2 linked regions of the Homo sapiens genome follow. The protein of the gene in region 1 purifies or fractionates together with the protein of each later gene. This does not show direct contact. Each region holds a gene or a part of one and is shown on either strand. Other genes may lie near its edges. The genes, in order: NINL and NKAP.

Region 1 (4,623 bases):
TGTAACCTTTTTGTTTTTGTTTTTTGTGTTTTTTTTTTGAGACGGAGTCTTGCTCTGTCACCCAGACTGGAGTGCAATGGCACAATCTTGGCTCACTGCAACCTCCGCCTCCTGGGTTCAAGCAATTATTCTGCCTCGGCCTCCCGAGTAGCTGGGACTACAGGCGCCCGCTACCATGCCCGGCTGATTTTTTGTATTTTAGTAGAGATAGGGTTTCACTGTGCTGCCCAGGCTGGTCTCGAACTCCTGAGCTCAGGTAATCCGCCCGCCTCAGACTCCCAAAGTGCTAGGATTACAGTTGTGAACCACTGCACCTGGCTTTTTTTTTTTTTTTTTTTTTTTTTGAGATGGAGTCTCACTCTGTCACCAGGCTGGAATGCAGTGGTGCTATTTCGGCTCACAGCAACCTCTGCCTCTTGGGTTCAAGTGATTCTCCTGCCTCAGCCTCCCAAGTAGCTGGGACTACAGGTGCACGCTACCACGCCCAGCTAATTTTTCTTTTTTTTTTGAGACTGAGTCTTGCTCTGTCACCTAGGCTGGAGTGCCACTGCAACCTCCACCTCCTGGGTTCAAGTGATTCTCCTGCCTCAGCCTCCCAAGTAGCTGGGATTACAGGTACGCACCACCACACACGGCTAATTTTTCTATTTTTTTTAGTAGAGATGGGGTTTCACCATGTTGGCCAGGTTGGTCTCAAACTCCTGACCTCAGGTGATCCGCCCGCCTCGGCCTCCCAAAGTGCTGGGATTAGAGGCGTGAGCCACCATGCCCGGCCACCTGCAACCTTCTTTTATGGCAGGAAGAACATGAGAAACAGCTGAAAGCCACAGAAGAGCGGGTGGAAGAGGCGGAGATGATTCTGAAGAATATGGAAATGCTCCTCCAAGAGAAAGTGGATAAGCTGAAGGAGCAGGTGAGTGATGGGCGCTGCTGCTTTCGTGTTCACGTCCTCTTCTGAACGCTCTCCACTTTTATGGGTGTGCAGGTAGCTAATACAGGAAAAGGCTGTCTTGTCACAGAATTCCAGGGAACTAAATGTATACCCTACACTGCAGGTGCACATTCATTTATTTTCCTCCGGGAATGGTTTTAAGATCTGTCCTTTGGGTGTTCACATACACTCAGAAAGGACTCATCCGTTCATTTGTTCATGTAGTCATTCAGGCATCCCCAAGCACCTCTGGTCTAAGCTTTCCCAGGTAGACCTGAGATGAGCAGGGCTGAGCCTGCATCCCAGACCTGACCCTCTGGAGACAGAGGCAGATGCTTCCATAGAGCATACATGACCTCGGGCCATGATGAGTGCTCTGAAAATGAGAGAATAGAGGTGGAAGGAGCCGGTGGGGTGGTCAAGGCCACTTTGAAGAGCCAGCATTTGGTCAGATGCCCAGTGACCAGCACAGGAACGTCCAGCTGTGTCCCCAGCAGAGGCCAGGTGGCATTTGGAAGGCTCAGTGGGTGGGAGATGCACACATCTCCTCGTGTCTGGGGGACTCCGAGGAGGGTGCATTCCAGGCAGCGGACAGCCATGGAGGAGGCCGCCATGGCTGGTGTGAACTGGTAGGGCTCAGGTAGGCAGTGCCTGTCGTGTGTATCCTAGAAGCCAAGGTCAGGGGTTTGGGTTTTATCATAATGGCAGTTAGAAGGCATAGGGAGATTTTAAGTAAAAGCATGACAGGATCTATCTTTTAAAAGAAACCATACTAGGGAAAAAGTCACTTGGGCTACTGTAAGGAGCAAAGACCAAAAATGAGGTGCCATAACTCACCTGGTCTGTAGATGTTCGAAGTCCAACTCAGCAGGTGGGAACTGACGTGCAGCAGTGCTGTGCCCTGAGGGCTGATGGCACAGGGTGTGGGTGGACCCCACGGGTGTGGGGTGCACACACAGAAGAGGCCCGGCCACGGACCACATTCAGTGTTAGGATTAAGAGAAATATGAAAACCTGGAGAAGTATTTTTGCTCCATCGTGATCCAGTATGGTTTGGTCTACATGAGGGATCCTGAGCTCAGCCCAAGCTAGACAAGGCATTTGTGGAAGGTTCCCAGTCCCTCCCTGGGGCCACCCGTCCTTGCCCAGCTTCCTCCCCTACTGGTGCCCCCGGTCCCTCTCACCCTTTCTCCCTGGCACACACCCACAGTCCTCAGTTGCCCGTCTCGCCAGCAACACCTGACTTCTGGTTCAATCCTGTGGCTCCTGCATACCTGCCCTGGCCCTGAGCACAGGCCACAGCCCAGGGCCTCAGTACTGCCTGTCCTGCGCCTGCTCCCTCCCCTGCTTCTCTTGGCTCCTGGCCTTGCTGACATCACAGCCAGTAGCGCATACGCAGATGAACCTGTTCCACACTCTGACCGTCCCAGGGCCTTTTGAGGACTGGCCACTTTTGCCTGAAGTCCTTGTTTCACGGCACAAAGCTGCCTCAAGTTTTCTCCATCACATAGCCCAGCAGATTCTCAATTTCCTCTCATGCCAGGGTAACAAAACTTGTCATTATAATCCAGTATTTGTGTCAGATTTCTTTTTTTTTTGGAGACAGAGTCTTGCTCTGTCGCCTAGGCTGGATGGAGTGCAGTGGTGCGATCTCTGCTCACTGCAAGCTCCACCTCCCGGGTTCACACCATTCTCCTGCCTCAGCCTCCCGGGTAGCTGGGACTACAGGCGCCCGCCACCACGCCCAGCTAATTTTTTTGTATTTTTTAGTAGAGATGGGGTTTCACCGTGTTCGCCAGGATGGTCTCGATCTCCTGACCTTGGGATCTGCCCACCTCAGCCTCCCAAAGTGCTGGGATTACAGGCGTGAACCACTGCCCCCGGCCTTGGGTCAGATTTCTAAGAGCCCAAAACTGTGGTTTGCGTAAACCTGGGAGGATAAAAGAGAGCAGGCTGATCTGTAGCGTTTCTCCACCGGCCTCATGCAAAGCATGGCTTCCTCCCCTCTCTAGTTTGAAAAGAACACGAAGTCCGACCTGCTGCTGAAGGAGCTGTACGTGGAGAACGCCCACCTGGTGAGAGCACTTCAGGCCACCGAGGAGAAGCAGCGAGGCGCCGAGAAACAAAGCCGCCTCTTGGAAGAAAAAGTTCGCGCTCTCAACAAACTCGTCAGTAGGATTGCCCCCGCAGCCCTCTCTGTGTAAAGACAGATTATTTTCTAGGATTCATTCGAAAGCACATCTTTTAAATTAAGCCACTGTGCTGCCTTAGATTCCGTGGGTCATGAGCCATGAGTCCTGGGACATCTGAGGATTGGGATTCTTTGTTCACCCCGCAGATAGTTAATGAATGGTCTGCCCTGGGCAAGATGGAGGTGGGGGCTGGGGGAATATGCATGTTGCAGAAGCCGGCGTTTTTATTAGCGGTCCTGAGTAATTTCCCTTGGCAAAATTCCCAGTTTTGCCACTCTCTGGAGCCAGATCCTGGGAGCTGTCAGCAAGGAGCAGGTAAGTGAGCAGTTATGGACAGCACTTTCCATGTGGTGCTTCCGACCCTGGCTGTCAGAGTGAAATGTAAAGTCAGGGCTCTGTACAGTTTTGCCATTTCACTGTTCTGCTTTAAGCTTAGCTTATTAGAACTCTTGGTGGAGGGTGCGTACACACATTCCAGAAAAGGCTTCACTCGCTGGGAACGTCAACCCAGCGAGAAAGGAGGGGAAGCCCCTTCTCCGGGGACCTTATCTGTGGACTCAGGAATGATGGTGTTTATTGCAAATGCACAATCTTTTTCCCATTGAAATGTCATCACACTGGAAATTGTACTATATGTAAAAAAAAAAAAAAGTATAGTTTTATATTTGAAATGTATGCAAATTATGGCCATATGGCTGATTGGAATGTACTACTGTAATATAAAAAGTCACTGTATTTGCAATAAATTCTTTTCTATTAAAATTGACTTCTAAGTTTGTTTTTAATTTTTTAAACTATAAAATATTTCAAACATAGAGGAAAATAGTTATGTAAGAAACACCCATGTGCCCATCAACATATCTAGTAAGAATAATATCCTGCCACAGCACTGTGGAGGGCGGGAGCCTGTTCTGTTCTCAGCCTCCTCCCTCTTCCCGGGGCAGCCGCCATCCCAAAGCTGGCATGTCTTCTCCTTTCTGCAGGAGAAAAATGTCACAGCACCGTGGAAAGATAACAAAGCCTGGAACAGATGGAAAGGTCGGTTCTTTGGAAGATTCGGCAACATGAAGTTGACTGGTTCTTCAAAGTTTACTGATGATAAATGTAATTAATCCCAATATAAATACAGATGTTACATGCCCCAATCAACCCCAGAATTGGACAAGACATTCTAAAGTTTTTACATACAACTAAATAAGCAAACAAAACAATTAGGAAAACTCTGAAGAAAGAAGAGCAATGTATGGGGACTAGTTCTACCAGTTATTAATATGTAAGTCCTAATACAGTTTATGTTACATGGGTGTATGCATTTGTCAAAACTCATTGAGGAGTACACTTCTTCATTCACTTTGGGCTTCTGTCTGAGACTGGAGTAACGAGATTGGAGTAACCAGGAGACCTGAACAACATTATCAATCTACTGACATCTAGAACCCACCACACGACACCAGTAGAAGCAAATGCAGCCAAACACTTACCAAGACAGACCATATCTTG
Region 2 (7,684 bases), on another chromosome or scaffold:
ATGTAGTTCGGGTTTTGATCCTGCAAATTCTTTCAAAAGAGGTTAGTGATTAAAAACATTGTTTTAATCTCGCAGTCTCTAAAACAATTGTTGGCATAATTGGAAAGCATCCTCAAATTCAAATGGACACAAACTACAAGAGTCCCCCTAACACCCACTCCTTAAATTCCATTTCCACAACCCAGATCCCTGCCTCAGTCCGCTGGGTGTTAGCCATGCACCTGCCCAGACAGCTGCAGAGTCTCAGACTTTGAAGAGGAGTAGTGAATGGAAGCTGAATACCTCCATATCCCATAACACACAAATGGTTTAATTCCTGTAGAGAATGGATCAGGTCAGGTGAGGTGGCTCACGCCTGTGATCCCAGCACTTTGGGAGGCCGAGGTGGGCGGATCACTTGAGCTCAGGGGTTCCAGACCCACCTGGGCAACATGGCGAAACCTTGTCTCTACCAAAAATGTCAAAACTTAGCCAGGCATGGTGGTATGCGCCTGTTGTCCCCGCTACTCGGGAGGCTGAGGTGGGAAGATCGCTTGAACCCAGGAGGCGGAGGTTGCAGTGAGCCAAGATAGTGCCACTGCACTTTAGCCTGGGTGACAGAGTGAGACCCCCATCTCAAAAAAAAAAAATTTAAAGAAGAATAGGCCAGGCGCGGTGGCTCATGCCTGTAATCCCAGCACTTTGGGAGGGTGAGGCAGGCGGATCATGAGGTCAGGAGTTCAAGACCAGCCTGGCCAACACAGTGAAATCCTGTCTCTACTAAAAATACAAAAATTAGCTGGGCATGGTGGCGCATGCCTGAAGTCCCAGCTACTTGGGAGGCTGAGGCAGGAGAATCACTTGAACCTGGGAGGCAGAGGTTGCCCAGGCTGGAGTGCAGTGGCAGGACCCAAACTCTGCAAGCCTGATCCCACTGGCTGTCTGCACCTCCCTGTGTGCTCTAGCTCCCCCTCACTGCCAACTCATGAAACACAGGCTGCTCCCAGGATACCTGGCAAGAAGAGCACCATGCCATTCAGATGTGCAGGAGTAGGGGTTTTCTCTTTCCAACTAAAGTACATGTCCACCAGCCATGGGGCAGGTAGACCAATCACTGTTGCAGAGTTGGTTTTATAGGCAACTGATGTGAAGGTGTACTGCCTGTTGTCGCAAAAGTTAGGCAGTAGGTTTTCCATTGAAAACTTTCTTATTAGAAATTCTCCCCAATCTCCATCCCAAATCACAGAATTTCTCTTACTCGATTAAGTTTTTGGACCTGGCCCCATGACAAATTAGTTATACATAGAAGATATCCAATAGTGTGGTCCACTCTTTCCATTTAACATTATTTCATACGTCTTTCCCTTAAATTCCAAAAAAAGGAGATTTCTGATAATCAATTGGCATTAATTTTCATGATCTGATAAATTACTTCTTAGGAAAATCCCAGAGGCCATCATGCTACTGGCAGGCTGGACTTGGAATTTCTTCAGCAAACCTATGTACCTTCAAAAATCCAAATTGAGGGCTGTGCATGGAGGCTCACGCCTGTGATCCCAGTACTTTAGGAAGCGGAGGCCGGCAGATCATTGGAGGTCAGGAGTTTGAGACCAGCCTGGCTTACAGGGTAAAACCCAGTCTCTACCAAAAATACAAAAATTACCTGGGCATGGTGGTGGGCACCTGTAATCCCAGCTACTTGGGAGGCTGAGGCATGAGGACTGCTTGAACCCAGGAGGCAGAGGTTGCAGTGAGCCAAGATCCTGCCACTGCACTCCAGCCTGGGCAACAGAGCAAGACTCTGTCTCAAAAAAAAAAGTCGAAATCAGTAGAATTAATGTTGGAATGCCCTTTGATTTAAAAACAGTAGAGGCCTAGGTGCAGTGGTTCAAGCCTGTAATGACAGCACATTGAGATGCCGAGGTGTGAGGATCACTTGAGTCCATGAGTTCAAGACCAGCTTGGGCAACATGGCAAAACCCCATGTCTACAAAAAATTTAAAAATTAGCGAACCATGGCACATGCCAGCTACTCAGGAGGCTGAGGTGGGAGGATCCCTTGAACTCAGGAGGTGGAGGTTGCAGTGAGCCAAGATCACACCACTGCACTCCAGTCTGGGTGAGGGAGCCAGACACTGTTTCACAAAAGAAAAAAGAAAAGAAAAACAGTATAAAATGAATAGAAATGCTGGGCGTGGTGGCTCACGCCTGTAATCCCAGCACTTTGAGAGGCTGAGGCGGGCGGATCACAAGGTCAAGAGATCAAGACCATCCTGGCCAACATGGTGAAACTCTGTCTCTACTAAAACTACAAAAATTAGCTGGGCATGGTGGCACGCCCCTGTAATCCCAGCTACTCAGGAGGCTGAGGCAGGAAAATAGCTTGAACCCTAGAGGCAGAGATTGCAGTGAGCCAAGATCACGCCACTGCACTCCAGCCTGCTTACAGAGCGAGACTCCATGTAAAAAAAAAAAAAAAAAAAAAAAAAGAATAGGAATACTGATCCTTAACTCTATATTGCTGGGCTGGCATACAATGAGACTAGTTTAAGGAGCTGGACAAAGAGGGGATTACAAATTCCTTTTGCTGGATAGATAATAGAGGCTGGGTAGGGTATGTGGGAGGAAGCAGAAGGATGAAGAGAAATAGGTTAAAGGGTACAAACATACAGTAAGATAGAAGAAATAAATTCAATGGTTTTTGTTGTTGTTTTAAGACAGTGTCTCACTCTGTCGCCCATGGAGTGCAGTGGATCAATCACGGCTCACTGCAACTTCGATTTCCGGGCTCAAGTAAGTGTTCCTCCCACCTCAGTCTCCTGAGTAGCTGGCATGCACCACCACACTCGCCAAATTTTTAAATTTTTTGTAGAGACAGGGTCTCCCTATGTTTCCCAGGCTGGTCTCCAACTCCTGGGCTCAAGTGATTGGCCCGCCTCGGCCTCCCAAATTTCTGGAGTTACAGGTGTAAGTCACCATGCCCAGCCCCAAATTCAATGTTTGATATTGACAGCATGGTAGAGTGAGAGTACACTATTTTTTTTTGGAAACACAGTCTCACTCTGTTGCCCAGGCTGGAGTGCAGTGGTGCAATCTCACTCTCGGCTCACTGCAACCTCAGCCTCCCGGGTTCAAGCGATTCTCGTGCCTCAGCCACCCTAGTAGCTGAGATTACAGGCACGTGCCACCAGGCCCAGCTAATTTTTGTATTTTTAGTGGAGACAGGGTTTCGCCATGTTGGCCAGGCTGGTCTCAAACTCCTGACCTCAAGTGATCCACCCGCCTCTGCCTCCCAAAGTGCTGGGATTACAGACGTGAGCCACCATACCAGGCCGAGAGTACACTTAACAAAAATGTATTGTGCTCAGATAATGGACACCTTAAATACCCTGACGTCATCACTACACATTATATACATGTAACAAAATTTCACATGTATCCCATAGATTTGTACAAATTTAAAAAATAATAAAAAATTAGCTGTGCATGATGGCACATGTCTGTAATCCCAGCTACTCAGGAGGCTGAGGCAGGAGAATCACTTGAACCTGGGAGGCGGAGGTTGCAGTGAGCCAGGATAGCCACTGCACTCCAGCCTGGATGACAGAGGGAGCCCTTGTCTCAAAAATAAAAAAATAAAAAATAAAATGACACTTTTTGGGGAAAAAAATACAAGCCAGACGCAGTGGCTCACACCTATAATCCTAGCACTTTGGGAGGCCGAGGCTGGCGGATCGCTTGAGCCCAGGAGTTCAAGACCACCTGGGCAACAAGGTGAAACCCTGTTTCCCCCGACCCCCCTCAAAAAAAAAACTACCCAGGCTTGGTGTCGCATGCGCCTGTAATCCCAGCTATTCAGGAGGCTGAGGTGGGAGGATAGCTTGAGCCCGGGGAGGCGGAGGTTTGCAGGGAGCTGAGATCTTGCCACTGTACTCCATCCTGGGCGACAGAGTGAGCAGAGTGAGTTCCAGTCTCAAAAAAAAAAAACCTCCTTTTGCTGGGGCATATTGGTGGAGACGGTGGCTAGGGGATAAGTATGCAGTTTTTCTCTAGGCGGGAAACTTAATTGAAGTTTATCAGGCGCGAGTCATTAACAAAATTTGCGCCCTCTAAGCTAACACGGCAATATGGGGCTTAGACACCATAGCTAATCCCCAGTCGCGAAAAACCCTCCCGATTTGCTTGGGATTGGAAAGAAAAAGAAAATACACATTCATACTTTCATACATGACATACACACACACACACACATTTATATATAAATACACACAGAAAGCACAGGAAACACAAGCAGAATTAACTGTCTTGTTCATACGGCCACTCAGTGAAATGTATACTGTATATTGTGTTTGAAATATATACTTCCCTTCAAGTGTTTCAAGTTCAAGGCTGAGAAAGAACTTGGTCTCTTGCTTAGACTTGAGGAGCCTCACTCGGAACTGGAAGGATGCACGCAATCTAGTTGCCCCACCGGCTTATTTATATTGATGCACACATCGCTTCCTGTCGGTGACGACCGCCTAGATCCGGGGAAGGGTTTTGCAGAAGTACCCAGAACTGTGTCCAAGGTTTCCTCAGATTTGGGCTGTTCCGCAGCGGCAGGTCCCGGGAACCAAGGCAACAGACATCTTCCTAGGCTCGCGAGAGCGCCCCCTTGTCCCACGGCTGCTGGGGCCCCCCAGTAGCCATGGCTCCGGTGTCCGGCTCACGCAGCCCGGATAGGGAGGCCTCGGGCTCGGGGGGAAGACGTCGCAGTTCGTCGAAGAGTCCGAAGCCCAGCAAATCTGCCCGCTCCCCGCGGGGCCGCCGCTCTCGCTCGCACTCTTGCTCTCGGTCCGGGGACCGGAATGGACTCACCCATCAGCTGGGTGGCCTCAGCCAAGGCTCCCGAAACCAGTCCTACCGCTCACGCTCGCGGTCGCGTTCTAGAGAGCGGCCCTCTGCGCCCCGGGGCATCCCCTTCGCTTCTGCCTCCTCGTCAGTCTATTACGGCAGCTACTCGCGCCCCTACGGGAGCGACAAGCCTTGGCCTAGCCTCCTCGACAAGGAGAGGGAGGAGAGCCTGCGGCAGAAGTGAGTGAGACGGCCGCACTTTCTCTTGTACGAGCCTACGTGCCTTTGGAGTCCGATCTATCATTCATTCCGCTTCTGACTATTCGCATTTCGCTCACTCTGCTTGCCTTGCGCCCATTTTCATCCCTTTCTTTAATCCACCCACGACAACCCTTTATTCGTCCTTTTCATTTTCCCTTACCCTCAGGCCCCTTCATATAGTGCCCTGGTCTCCCGCTACCCCCTTCCGCCTCCTGTCTTGTTAGCGAATATTGCCGAGAGTTCAGACCTACCAGAACTGTAGCATTTACCTGGTTGTGTCATTATCATTCGTGAATATATTTGTATTCCCCACTAGACTGAGCTCATGGAAAGGAGGAGCCAGTGAACGGAGGAGAATTCTGATCACAGAATTCTAAGTGCCTGGTACTTTATAGGCGCTCAACCATTGCTTGTTGAATGAAGGAACTTACAGGTCTGAGATAACAGGATATTTATGTAGAAACGTTTTGTGGGGAATTAGGAAGGAATGAAATCAAGGGTTTAAGTTGGAGAGGAAATAAACCTTCCCCTCAGACAAGACGATTAGATGCATGTAGGAAAAGTGATCTGATAAGCTATAGATGACCCCACTTTGAGGAAGGTCTTGTTAAGTGGTCTCAGTCTTGACCTCGAAAAATGACGCCAGGATGAGACTAGATCTCTAATCAAAGTGAGTATTGGAGTGGAAAAATGCATAGCTTGGGGATTGTTTTGTTTTGTTTTTGAGACAGGGTCTAGCTCTGTCGCCCAGGTTGGAGTGCAGTGGTGCAATCTTGGCTCACTGCAGCCTCCACCTTCTTGGGCTCAAGTGATCCTCCCACCTCAGCCTCCCTCATAGCTGGGACTATAGGTGCGCACCACCACACCCGGCTTATTTTCGTATTTTTTGGTAGAGACAGGGTTTCACCATGTTGCCCAGGCTGGTATCGAATTTCTGGGCTCAAGTGATCCTCCCACGTTGGCCTCCGGAAGTGCTGAGATTACAGGTATGACCCCACATGCCCTGCCGAGCCTGTCCTTTTCATCACTATACTTTATTACCTCCCACTGCCGGAAGAAAAAGACTCAAGACATCTCCCAACTGTTGGAACTTTAACCTACCTCTCAATGCCTGTAATATTTCTAAGTTTCTCATTTTTTTAAACATATAAGTGCACGTAAATAACTTAGTACAGTGCCTGACACATAATTTAACAATAAACAAGATATTAAGACTTACACAGCAATAATTATGAGCCTTTTCCTTTCTCCTTAAAACTATGCATTTTTTGGCTGGGCACAGAGGCTCATGCCTGTAATCCCAACACTTTAGGAGGCCAAGGCAGGAGGATCACTTGAATCCAGGAGTTCAAGACCAGCCTAGGCAATATAGGGATACCCTGTCTCTACAAAAAGTGTTTTAAAAATCAGCTGGGCGTGGTGGCATGTGCTTGTAATTTCAGGTACTGGGGATGCTGAAGTGGGAGGATCACTTGAGCTGGAGAGGTCAAGGCTGCCATGAGCCATGATCTCACCACTGCACTCCAGCTTGGGTGACAGAGGGAGATGCTGTCTCAAAAACAAACAAACAAAAAAAAACAAAGAGAAGAACAGGAAGAAAGAAAGGAAAAGGACAAACTCCAGAATCAGACTGAGTATGAAGCCTTTATTTGCCACTTAATAGCTGTGTGACCTTGGTCAAGTTACTTAACCTCTCTGGGCTCCATTTCTTCATCATTAAAAGGGGGATAAAATAAGTACTATGGATTAAAAAGGGGATAAAATAAGTACTAGGGATTTGGGGATTGTAATAATTAAGTGGCTGGAACATAACTATTCCATAAGTGTTAGCTATTAATGTTTCATGCATGGGAGCAAAAACAGTAAAAACAGTCCTGAGTTAGGTTGGAGACCCATCTCTCCAAGTTACATTTTTCAGAAACATACCCACAGGCTATGTCAGTCAAAAAGTAAATAGTTTCTTCTTGGAGAATCCTCACCAAAAGATGTCAGAAGTGCTTGGATGAAACTTGCATATGTACATTTAGAAAATAAATAATTTATCTTTTTTTTTTTTTTTGAGATGGAGTCTCACTCTGTCTCCCAGGCTGGAATGCAGTGGTGCAGTCTCGGCTCACTGCAGCCTCCACCTCCTGGGTTCAAGTGGTTCTTCTGCCTCAATCTCCTGAATAGCTGGGATTACAGGTATGCACCACCACACCCAGCTAATTTTTGTGTTTTTAGTAGAGACGGGGTTTCGCCATGTTGGCCAGGCTGGTCTCGAACTCCTGACCTCAGGTGATCCACCAGCCTCAGCCTCCCAAAGTGCTGGGCCCGGCCAATAATTTATCTTAACATTACAGATGAAACCAGGTGACAACAGGACTTCCTGCTATTTACAGCCTGGTAGGCGTTCTTCCCCCGATATCCATACATTCCAAGTACAGCTATAAATATGTTACCTTTTAAATTGTCTGTTACTTCAGGTGGGAAACCCTCTCAGTCTGACTCTGCATAGTTATAATACCTTTTCCCCTGATTAAGGAGGCAAAAACGATTTATACAAAAACTCATTGCAATTATATTTATTTTGGAAGGATTTTTAAAAACAAATGGAGTCACAAGCAGCTAA

What was found.
Region 2: the proteins of NINL (region 1) and NKAP purify together in Homo sapiens (affinity purification with mass spectrometry; 2 studies listed by BioGRID and IntAct, with this or other methods). This does not show direct contact.

Annotation. Positions count from the first base shown.
Region 1 is NC_000020.11:25,451,963-25,456,585, reverse strand, and holds the end of NINL (ninein-like protein), read left to right. Parts: intron 1-799; coding exon 800-913; intron 914-2,943; coding exon 2,944-3,135; 3' UTR 3,136-3,889; downstream 3,890-4,623. UniProt on the Homo sapiens protein: Involved in the microtubule organization in interphase cells. Overexpression induces the fragmentation of the Golgi, and causes lysosomes to disperse toward the cell periphery; it also interferes with mitotic spindle assembly.
Region 2 is NC_000023.11:119,940,588-119,948,271, reverse strand, and holds the start of NKAP (NF-kappa-B-activating protein), read left to right. Parts: upstream 1-4,520; 5' UTR 4,521-4,666; coding exon 4,667-5,052; intron 5,053-7,684. UniProt on the Homo sapiens protein: Acts as a transcriptional repressor. Plays a role as a transcriptional corepressor of the Notch-mediated signaling required for T-cell development. Also involved in the TNF and IL-1 induced NF-kappa-B activation.